Homo sapiens: one gene and its partners. The protein of the gene in region 1 purifies or fractionates together with the protein of each later gene. This does not show direct contact. Each region holds a gene or a part of one and is shown on either strand. Other genes may lie near its edges.

Region 1 (3,751 bases):
AGCCTGTGGATGAATAAGGCTTCTTTGGTGCCTCTGACACCAACTTAATTTTGCATTATGTTTCAGAGTTGCATTATGGCATGTCATTCCATTATATCATAATGAGGCAAATCAAGGAATTATTCCCTTTTACTAATAAGGCTATAGCATATATTATTTGGCCACATTGAAGAGGATAGGAGATACTTTCTATGGGTTGAAATTAATACTACTTTTAACCCATGATACATTCTATTTCAATAGCATTTGAAGTTAAAAGTAATGCGGTCTTCAACTTCTTGTCCTCTGTGTAAATCTCCAGAGATTACTTAGTATCTGTTTCAGAATCATTACAGAAAAATCAATGCTAAGATTTATGGAAAGCATTTAAATAGCTTGGACTAAAGGTATTAGCCAAATAGTGTTAACTGTGTATTTGCTTCAGGCTTGTTTTCAAGTTAGCTATATGAAGCTCTGGAATCACTTTTTTTCAGTACACAGAGCTCCTCTATGAACAGTTATGAGAAATAAAAACCTGTTGTGAGCATCAAATTTTGTTGCTGTTATTAAATAGCTATTATTATTGATACATATTTTTCTTTAGGTGGGATTTTTCCCTTTAGATATAACTGAGTTTAAAACTTGAAACTGTTAGTATTAATACATAGGTTATATTTTTCATAGGTTGATTTCTATCCAATATGAACTATAAAGAATTTTATCGTTTATTGTTGTAGATTTGTGTGATGAAACATACAATATTTCCAGTATCTTCACAATATTTTTCCAAAGAACTGAGCTATTAAAATTTATACATATAAGGAAACATTCTGTCATTTCTAAAGTGAGATTTCAAACCATAAGCTTGTTAGAAATTAAGTGAGATTATAGTATTCTGGTGATACTTAAATGTTCTTGGGATCTTTACAATCATATGTGGTTTTTTAAGAACTTAAGAATCTTTTGTTACTGCTATTATTAATAGATTGGGAAAATATAATCTGTTGACTAAAAGGCAAAATAAACATTTTTAAGATTTTATGCAGTATCCTATAATGGAAACAAACAAGAAAGGTCTTGTTCTTGTTTGTTGAGGAAAAGATGATGGCTTTGCTTTAAACATACTTGAAAAATCGACTAGAAGAGATCCTGAACAAGAAACTGTAAGACTTCTGGAATGTACCTTGAGTAACAGAGGCAGATAAACTATTTTATTCTGTTACTAGTGAGAAGATTCACTGGTAATTCACAATCACCGCCCCCTCCAACCAAATACCATAAACAAGGCCTCAGAAATGGGAACTTCCATTTCATTTTTGACAGTGATTTCTCTCAACTCTGAAAACAAAACCCCTTTTACAACTCTGAGTTAGTTTTCAAATGTTAGGGTTTCCTGCATGGGTATTTGGGGTAAGTATGAAAATGTTTTGCTGCTTAAATCAAAGAACTCTGGAAACAGATATAAATTGAGAATGGAAAAAGAGTAGTGAATAAGATGGAAATTTCTATTCTAAATTTCACTATATGGGCTACAATTCCCATATAGTTTTCCTTAGTGAACACCACCCCCCAACACACACATACAAACACACCTTCTGATTTAAATAACATTATATCTTCAGAAATGGAAAATGTGTTAAAGTTGTGTTAACAGGCTTCCTTCTTGTCTGTGTCCCATTCTCATCACAGTCTACCAGTTAGGGATGTTTAGAGAAATTTATCTTGTGGCATTGAAGTGGCTTTATGTGCATTATATATTGGGTTTTATGTATATTGCATACTGTGAAGTAATCATGATACATGCTGACAACAAAAGATGTAGATAAGTTAAAATTTTAGTTGATCCATTGTCTGTTTCTTCTTTGCCATCTTTGTAGAAAAAAATTAATTCAAGATGGACAGCCTATAAAAATGTATCTTTTTCTATTATTATTAATTTAGATATTGGCGTGCCACTTTTGAAGAAGGAAAATACTTAGCTACATTAAAAGATTTGCATTGAAGAAGCAATTGTGATATGCTGCCTTTTATCACAGTGTGACTTCCCATCAGTGCTGAGTAATGAAGTTTCTGATTAATATCTATCGTTGCTTTATCAGAATATCTTTCTCTAAAGTAAATCATTCTTGTGAATAAGAATCTAGCTAGTTGTAATGCAGTTCAGCATAGGTGGAAATAATTTTTTAAGGACTAAGTCAATTTCTGGGATTCAGACTGTTTCAGAAAAGAAACATTTTCTGTATTTCCACTAATGGCACAGTGTACCTTAGTATGTTTGGGTTAGTATTCAGTTTTAGCAATAATCATGGAGGCAGGGGTATCTATAAATATTATATCCCAATTTGCAAGGTAGCAAAGTTGTATATATACTACATAATATGACCACTTGACAGTTTATGAAGTCTTTTCATATATGCCATTTAATTGATTCATATAATAATCTTATGTGTAAACATAAAGGTGTACTACTATCTTCATTTCAAGTATCCTTGAAAAGACTTTCTCCATTGAATTGCCTTTGTACCTTTGTCAAAAATCAACTGACCAGCCTTATAGCACGTTAAGAAGTAACTTATATGATGTTATTAACACAAAGGATGGGGGAAGGAATGAAGCTATATTGGAGTAAACAATGACACCAGACAGTTATGTGAAGAAATGAAGAATACCAGGAATATTAAATATGTGAATGTAAAAGACCCTAATATATTTTCCTTTCTCCTCTTAACTTTATAAAAAGAAAATTATTTAAAGTAATAATTACAACACTATATTACTGGGTTTAAATATATAAACATATATGACAATAATAGCATAAAGGTGGAGGAAAGGAATAAAGCTCTATTGGAGCAATTTCTATATTTTTTAGAATCAAGTTAGTATTAAGCTGAGAGAAATTGTGATAAACTAAGACGCAATAGTAATCTCTAGAGTCATCACTACGAAACTCAAGAAACTATAGTAAAAAAAAATACATTAATTAAAATGGTGTACTAGAAAATACCTATTTAATAGAAAAGAAGGTGATAAAGGAGGGTGAGAGGAAGTAAAAAGACATGTGATATATAGAAAACAAATAGCTAAATGGCAGGCATGAATCCAACCATACCAATGTTAATTTTAAATTTGAATAAACACTCAAAAGGGCAGAGATTGTCAGATTGGATATAAAAACAAGATCCAACTATATGCTATCTACAAAAGATACACTTCAGATTCAGAGACAACAATTTTGGAAAACTGTCAACTATTTCTATACCATTCTCTTTCCTTTCCTTCTGTGATTCCAATTATGTGTAATGTTGAACTTATTTGATACTATACCAGAAGACTCTGATGTTATTTTTTAAAATTATTTTTTCTCTTTTTACTTCAGTTTGGTTTCTTGTGACCTGTTTTCAAGTTTTCTAGTGCTTTCTTCTGTCACATCTCATCTAATTGAGTGACCGCAACTCCTAAGTATATTGTGACTTTATTTTCAGGATAAGGGAGATCTTGAAGGCATCTCGAAAGTTGCAAGGTGATCCAGATTTGCCGATGTCTTTTACTTTGGCCATAGTGGAGTCTGATTCTACAATAGTCTATTATAAACTTACTGATGGATTTATGCTGCCAGACCCTCAGGTCAGTTTTGAGGTAACTGACAGCAAGAAGTACAAAAAGAGGAAAATTATGACGTGATTTTAAGTGTGACTCAAGTCAGTCACAGAACTGCCACTTCCTTTGCCATAGGGAAAATTCAAGAAAAAAAGTCTTGATTTTCAGACGTCAG
Region 2 (3,751 bases), on another chromosome or scaffold:
CAACTCCAACTGAACTGACTGAGATGCCTCCACCTCAAAGCGAAGTTCTGTTTCTCGCTCTAGTTCAAATTTAGTGGTTGGCTTCTTGTCATCATTAGCCTCTTCTCCCATCTCTTCTGTGTAGCTGCTGTGCCTAGAACACAAATTAAATATCAGATCTAATTATAAGTCAGTCTTCTGTTACAAAAACATCCAATGGGGCCAGGCATGGTGGCTCACGCCTGTAATCCCAGCACTTTGGGAAGCCGAGGTGGCTGGATCACTTGAGGTCAGGAGTTCAAGACTAGCCTGGCCAACATGGTGAAACCCTGTCTCTACTAAACATACAAAAAAAAAATTAGCCGGGCATGGTGGAGGGTGCCTGTAATCCCAGCTCTTTGGGAGGCCAAGGCAGGAGAATCGCTTGAACCCAGGTGGCAGAGGCTGCAGTGACCCGAGATTGTGCCACTGCATGCTAGCCTGGGCAACAGAGCAAGACTCCATCTCAAAAAAAAAAAAAAAAATCATCCAATGGGCCAGGCACAGTGGCTTAGGCCTGTAATTTCAGCACTTTGGGGCGCTGAGTTGGGCAGATCCCCTGAGCTCAGAAGTACAAGACCAGCCTGGGCAACATGGTGAAACCCCGTCTGTAGAAAAAATGCAAATATTGGCCAGGCCTGGTGGCTCACGCCTGTAATCCCAGCACTTTGGGAGGCCAAGGTGGGTGGATCACCTGAGGTCAGGAGTTCAAGACCAGCTTGGCCAACATGGTGAAATCTCAGTATTTACTAAAAAATACAAAAATTAGCCAGGCATAATGGTGGGCGCCTGTAGTCCCAGCTACTCAGGAGACTGAGTCAGGAGAATCGCTTGAACCCAGGAGGTGGAGGTTGCAGGGTTGCAGTGAGGCGAGATCATGCCACTGTACTCCCGCCTGGGTGACAGACCAAGGCTCTGTCTCAAAAAAAAATAAAATAAAATAAACAAATAAATAAATAAATAATAAAAACATACAATGAATGTTTCCCCTTACCTTGCTTTAATTCTCTCCATATTTCTTATCACCATCGGTCTCACTATATATTGTGTCTTCCCCGCCTCCTCCACCCCAAAATGTAAGACTTAGGCATTTTTGTTTGATACTATATACTGCTTAGAATACAGCTTGACAGACTGTAGGCACCTCAATACATTGAGTGAATTAATGTCTCAGACATCAGAGAAAAACCATACCTACAGACTGACAGAAGATTTAATTATATCACCCTCCATCACTCTATTGGTAAACTCCAAACTTGAGAAGGTAACAGATGCCCTGACCCCAATCATCCTAGTCAACAGGAAAGGGCGTCTGAAATACGGATGCAAAGCAGAGCACACCGGGTCTGAACTCAGAAAACAGCCTAATCCTCGTCTCTGTAACTACTAGTAGTGTCTTTAGACAATCACTTAACTTCTCTGAACCTTTGAAGCTGTCGACTGGAAGCACTTACACTTCCTCAAATACAGTGTTGTTCTTGGGGTTTACAGGAATTGTGGGAGGAAAAAAAAGCACTTCGTAAACTAGAAAACGGCAAGGAAACGATATGAATTATTTCTGATCCTGGACTGCAGCTCTAGCTCCAGCATTTGTCCCAACCTTCCCAGACACCAAAATCTCCCCAAGACACCAAAATCTCCCCAGACACCAAAATGTCCCCAGACCCCAAGGAGGTGACAGTTGTGTTCCTGCCCTTTTTTTAACTCACCTGCGCAGCCAGGAGCCCAACAGGTAAACTCAGAAGGTCCTCCCGTGCAGAATTTAAACCAAACTACAAGCGGTTCTTGCCCGGACCCACGCCGGAAACAAACGCAGTTCCGCACTTGCGCTGTGAAAGGACACGCGGTCGCGCGCTGCCCTTTGGGATGTGTAGTTTGCCGGAGCAGCCGAGAGCGGGTGCACTCGCTAAGCCGCTCGGCCTTCTGGGAGTTGTAGTCAAAGGATTGTTTTGAACGTGACGCCAAAGGTGGGAGGGGCGGCTGTTGTCATTATTCGTGCAGCCGGAGGGAGGGGTGAGGAGGCGTGGCGGTTGCGCCCCCGCGCTGGGCAGGGACAGGTCGAGGGACCAGGCTTCGGCAGTGCGCGTCCGCGGCGGGAATCTCGCCCCAGATTTCCTGCTCCCCTGCAGCCCAGGAAACAGAAGGGAGGCCCGGGAGAAAGAGAGACTCACTGTCTCGGTCTAGGTCCCGCGACGGCCTGCTTGCCTGGACAAGCCACGAAGCACAAAATCCTTTTTAGGCAGGGGGAAACCCAGGGATAGAGAAAGCGGAGGAAGACAGCCTGACAGAGGTTTCACCAAGCTGTCATCTCCCACCTGACACAGTGCTTGGCACATGGAAGGCATTTCAAATTTTTTTTCTTTAATAAAAGAATAAAAATCCGATGATTTCTTCCAGCTACAAGTCAGTCATTACCCAACAACCTCTCTCCCACTAAACGAGGATTTTTGTTAGGCACTCATTTCCCTCCATAAATCCCTGACAGTTACAGGTCAGTCATTTGCCCCGCAGCCAACAGGTTCCACCACGTCTATAATCCTCTTTTTACTACCTTGGGCTTTGGAATCTTATATTATTTGCTATACTGCTTACATTACTGTGTGACTTTGAGCAAATCACAGGCTTCATCTCTCTGAGATCGTTTTTTTTTTTCTTTTTGTTTTTGAGACAGGGTCTCACTCTCTCGCCCAGGTTGGAGTACAGTGCCGCGAACATGGCTCACTGCAGCCTCGACCTCCTGGGCTCAAGCGTGATATCGTTTTTTGTCTGCAAAGTTGGGATAATAACAGTGCCCAACCTCCTAAAGTTGTTTTGACGATTGCAGGAATGTGCCTGTAAAGTACTAAGTACAATGCCTGTAATATAGAAAAAAATCTGATATCAGCTTTTACGTTTTTATTATAGGCTGGGGCGGAAGGGGCTATAATATCATTCATTCGTGCAATACTTAACATTTTTCAGATCCCTTTCAGGCATCTTCTTTCACAGCCACCCTGTAAAGACAGCTTTATTATATCCAATTTCAGATGGGGGAGGAGACTCAGATAGGTGCAGAGGTTTGCCCAAACATTAACAGCCATTGGTAGAGCTAGGACTCAAACCCAGAGTTTCTGAGTCCGGTTATAATAATAGTAAACATTTAGGCCAGGCGCGGTGGCTCACGCCTGCAGTCTCAGCACTTTGGGAGGCCGAGACGGGCGGATCACCTGAGGTCAGGAGTTCGAGACCAGCCTGACCAACATGGTGAAACCCCATCTATACTAAAAATACAAAAATTAGCTAGGCGTGGTGGCGGGCGCCTGTAATCCCGGCTACTTGGGAGGCTGAGGCAGGAGAATCGCTTGAACCGGGGAGGCGGAGGTTGCAGTGAACTGAGATCACGCCACTGCACACCAGCCTAGGCAACAGAGTGAGACTCTGTCTCACAAAAAAAATCACATTTAAGGCAGGGCGTGGTGGCTCACGCCTGTAATCCCAGCACTTTGGGAGGCCGAGGTGGGTGGATCACGAGGTCAGGAGATCGAGACCATCCTGGCTAACATAGTGAAACCCCGTCTCGACTAAAAATACAAAAAAATTAGCTGGGCGTGGTGGCAGGCGCCTGTAGTCCCAGCTACTAGGGAGGCTGAGGCAGGAGAATGGCCTGACCCCGGGAGGCGGAGCTTGCAGTGAGCTGAGATCCTGCCACTGCACTCCAGCCTGGGCGACAGCGCGAGACTCTGTCTCAAAAAAA
Region 3 (3,751 bases), on another chromosome or scaffold:
GCACATGTGGGTACTATAGTCATCCCTTGGTATCCACAGAAGGACTGGTTCCAGGACTCACCCCCTACCAAAATCCGCAGCTCAAGTCCCTTAAATAAAATGTAGTATTTGCATGTAACTTATGCCCATCCTCCCATCTACTTTAAGTCTTCTCTAGATTACTTAGAATACCTAATACAATGTAAATACTAAATAATTGTTATATATATATATTTTTAAATTTCTTTTTCCAAATATTTTTGATGCAACATTGGTTGAATCCACAGATTCGGAACCTGATAGCGAGAGCTGACTGTACTATCCTCATTCCACAGATATGAAAGAAGAGCGGTGCCTGAGGTGCACAAAAACATATAGGAAAGACTGGGTCAGTTGTCAAGAGGTTTGGGATGCAAAGGTTGGTTTGGAATTGGAGTCACTGCAGGTTATTTAGAATGATGATTGAAAAATGCAGATTAAGAAAATTAAACCTGGGAGTGGTACATCACACAGTGGCCCTCAAGCTTACCTACCCTTAACTCCTCATGCCCAGGCCTCACCTGCAATCAATTACATCAGAATTTCCTGGGTGGACCCAGCTGATTTTAACATATAGCTAACCACTGGTAACAGCAAGGTCTATTCAAATTCACTTAATCCCAGTAGCCCCCGGAGGTAAAGACTATTTTTATTTCCATTGTACAGATGTGGAAAGTGACTCGGAGGGGCCGGGCGCACCCCTGAGAAATCTTTACTTCTTATTTCCCCAACCTGCGCAACCTGACTCCAGAGCTGCATATTCTTACTTTCTATTAAAAGCAGAGTCTGTTTCTTATTCTTCCCTCGAGCACACAGGCTAACACCTCTTAGGTGATGGTAAATGTCTATTAGAAAAACAAAAAAGGGAGAGGTGGCTCCATTTAATTTTCCAACCTTCCTGGACTAGGTGCCAAACAAACCTGGTTAAAAAACCTCCTACCCAGCAAATCTCACCTTCTCCCAACCAAAACACGCTTCAAGCTCCATCTGCGCACCTCCTGGGCTTAGGGAGGCAAGGATGAAAGGCACAAGGTAAACAATCCTGCCTCTGGGGAGCTTTCAAGTTAGAACCTGAGAATAAGCCATATAAACAGATGACCAGCCTTTGAAAGTTGTTGTCAGGATTAAATGCATAATTTTGCAGAAGGCGTTTCGTTCGGGGCCTACCACGTGGAAAGCGCTCACCAGACGACAGCTGCAAATAAAATAAACTGCGCACCCCAACAGCGTTAGGGGCCCCGCCAATTCCTAACTCCCTGTCTTACCCCTTTGCTTCTTTCCTTGACTACCCCCACACCCGACCGAACTCCACCAGAGGCTGCGGCTCCTCTCGGGCATTGTCAGCTGCACCTTGCGCCCCAGCCCCACCAGCCCTGAACAAGGCGCCGGCGTTTCCAAGAACCAAGGGCTGCAGGCGCACGAGGAAAGCGCGGAGGAGTCAGTGACCGGGCGCACTCGGAAGCCTGGCTCCCCGTCCCGGCACTGTCTCGGCCGGCTGTGCGACCCCAGCACAGTACCTAGGCCCTTTCCTCTCTCGCCCTGGAGGACTTTCGGAAGAGCGAGATTTCCTTTCGCTGCAAAACACCAAACTCGGAAAGGGCCGCGCTTTCCTCGCCCAGGGCCCTTACCTTTCTTGGCCCCACGCGCTCGCCGTTACCCCGGCAACGCCGGCCGTGGGGCGGACACCGCTGCCGTCAAGCAGTGCGGCCGCAAAGCCAGCCGAGTGCGCAGCCGCAGAGCTCCCGTCGGGACTTGGCGGAGTGCGCCTGCGCACGGCCGGCTGGCGGGTGTTCTGTGCGCCAGCTCTGCCACTGCGGAGTATGAGGCGGAGGCTGCGTGCGCGCTTTGCTGCTCTCTGCAGGATTGTACGGAAGCCAGAACGATCCTGCAAGACGCATTTTACAGATGAGATGCAGTTACCCGTCAAATGTCACATAGTCACGTGGGAGGTGGGAGAGACCTAGAATCTTCGGCCCTCGGTGGATGGGATGTTTGAGGCGACCGACAGGACTTTATTAAATGGCCCTGAGGAAACTGATCTCATCTTTCTCAATGTAGAAAGAGGATCACAGCAGCGCACCTGTGTACGCTGCAGCATGCGGGGAACTTGCAAGGACGTTTTCTCTGGCAGACACCTGGCCAGAAGCCTCTGTGTGCCCAGACTGCCTGTGCAGTTAAGGGACAATAGGCGGCAGGTCCACCTGCTCTGCATCCCCATTTTCCCCCCTCACTGGCTGCGTGAGCTTGAATGACTGACAACCTTTCTGAGCTTGAGTTTACTGAAAAATGGGCCATCAGAATTACGGGAGATGAGCAAAACTGGAGTGCAATAGGAAGTGTAAGTTTCTCCTGACCTGGTTATTTTAAAGGAGCCCTGTGGGGAGTCCAATATATACTTTCCCAAATATGAATCACAGGAGTTCCACCACACAGACTAAGCAGGAGGCAAAGGAGGATGGCAAGGAAGTGTGGCAAATACTGCTGGAGAGATTCATGGTGCTAGATGTGATGATGGATGTTGAATTTTGGACTTCTGCCAATGTTCTTGCCTCCATTCCTTCACGCATGCTGTTGCCTCTATGTTCCCTCCCCTCTGTTAGCTGCAGTAATTCCTGGTCAGCCTTTAGGTCTCAGCTCAAATATCACCTCTTCCAGGAGACTTCTTGCCTTCCCAGACCTGCTTGGGTGACTTGCCTCTGTGCTCTGCAGTAGTCTGGCATGGCATGTGTTGTCCCTGTTTTTCTGGCCCTTTTTATTTTTTGAGACGGAGCCTGGCTCTGTCGCCCAGGCTGGAATGCAGTGGCACCATCTCAGCTCACTTACCTCACTGCAATCTCTGCCTCCCAGGTTCAGGTGATTCTCCTGCCTCAGCCTCCCGAGTAGCTCGGATTACAGGCGCCTGCCACCACGCCCGGCTGATTGTTATATTTTTAGTAGAAACGGGGTTTCACCACGTTGGCCAGGCTGGTCTCAAACTCCTGACCTCAAGCGATCCTCCCGCCTCGGCCTCCCAAAGTGCTGGGATTACAGGCTTGAGCCACTGCATCCTGCCTGGCCCTTTTTGAACTGCACTGTGGGCTTGCTCTTGGTAGAGTGAGATCATGTCGCAGCATTCAGTGGGTCCTCTGCTGCAAGGACCTTCACTGCTAGGCTAGGGAGTTCAGGTTTTAGATAAACCAAAATCAAAGAGCTTTGTGGTAAGAATGTTGCAAAAGAAAGGGAGAAAATTGGCAAGAGTCACAGGATATGGTAACAGGATGGATTGGGCAGGGGAGAGACAGCTGAAGAGAGGCTGTAATATCCGACCAGAACATGCCAATTTAAGAAATACTGGTTTTAGAATTAGAGGGCTTTAACAATGAAAGGGATTCAGAGGTTGTCCAGTTAAACTTCCTTATTTAACTGATAAGAAAACAGTTCCAGTGGCACTGTGAGTTGTCAGAGATAACCGAGCAGGTCTGAGGTGGGGCTGAGACTAGAGCCAGGTCTCTTAAATCCCATCCCAGCTCGTGGAAGGATTTGGGGTTTGCTGATAATGGGATCTCAAATTCCCCTCCCAAAAACATAAAAAAAGAAATTAAAAAAAGAAAAAAAATCTGTAAATTTTAAAAAAGAAAGAAATTTTCCCCAAGACTTTCTCAAGTGCATTTTAAACCCTTTGATATGGTTATTTTCAAACATACAACACAAAAGTAGAGAAAACAGTCCAATAAATCATCACTTCTGGCCGGGC

What was found.
Region 2: the proteins of TSEN15 (region 1) and CLP1 purify together in Homo sapiens (affinity purification with mass spectrometry; 5 studies listed by BioGRID and IntAct, with this or other methods). This does not show direct contact.
Region 3: the proteins of TSEN15 (region 1) and TSEN2 purify together in Homo sapiens (affinity purification with mass spectrometry; 5 studies listed by BioGRID and IntAct, with this or other methods). This does not show direct contact.

What each region holds. Positions count from the first base shown.
Region 1 is NC_000001.11:184,068,696-184,072,446, forward strand, and holds part of TSEN15 (tRNA-splicing endonuclease subunit Sen15), read left to right. Parts: intron 1-1,920; exon of another isoform or gene 1,921-2,037; intron 2,038-3,461; coding exon 3,462-3,603; coding exon of another isoform or gene 3,604-3,615; intron 3,616-3,751. UniProt on the Homo sapiens protein: Non-catalytic subunit of the tRNA-splicing endonuclease complex, a complex responsible for identification and cleavage of the splice sites in pre-tRNA. It cleaves pre-tRNA at the 5' and 3' splice sites to release the intron.
Region 2 is NC_000011.10:57,655,837-57,659,587, reverse strand, and holds the start of CLP1 (polyribonucleotide 5'-hydroxyl-kinase Clp1), read right to left. Parts: upstream 1,827-3,751; 5' UTR 1,728-1,826; intron 134-1,727; 5' UTR 112-133; coding exon 1-111. UniProt on the Homo sapiens protein: Polynucleotide kinase that can phosphorylate the 5'-hydroxyl groups of double-stranded RNA (dsRNA), single-stranded RNA (ssRNA), double-stranded DNA (dsDNA) and double-stranded DNA:RNA hybrids. dsRNA is phosphorylated more efficiently than dsDNA, and the RNA component of a DNA:RNA hybrid is phosphorylated more efficiently than the DNA component.
Region 3 is NC_000003.12:12,482,413-12,486,163, reverse strand, and holds the start of TSEN2 (tRNA-splicing endonuclease subunit Sen2), read right to left. Parts: upstream 1,685-3,751; 5' UTR 1,284-1,684; exon of another isoform or gene 973-1,283; intron 1-972.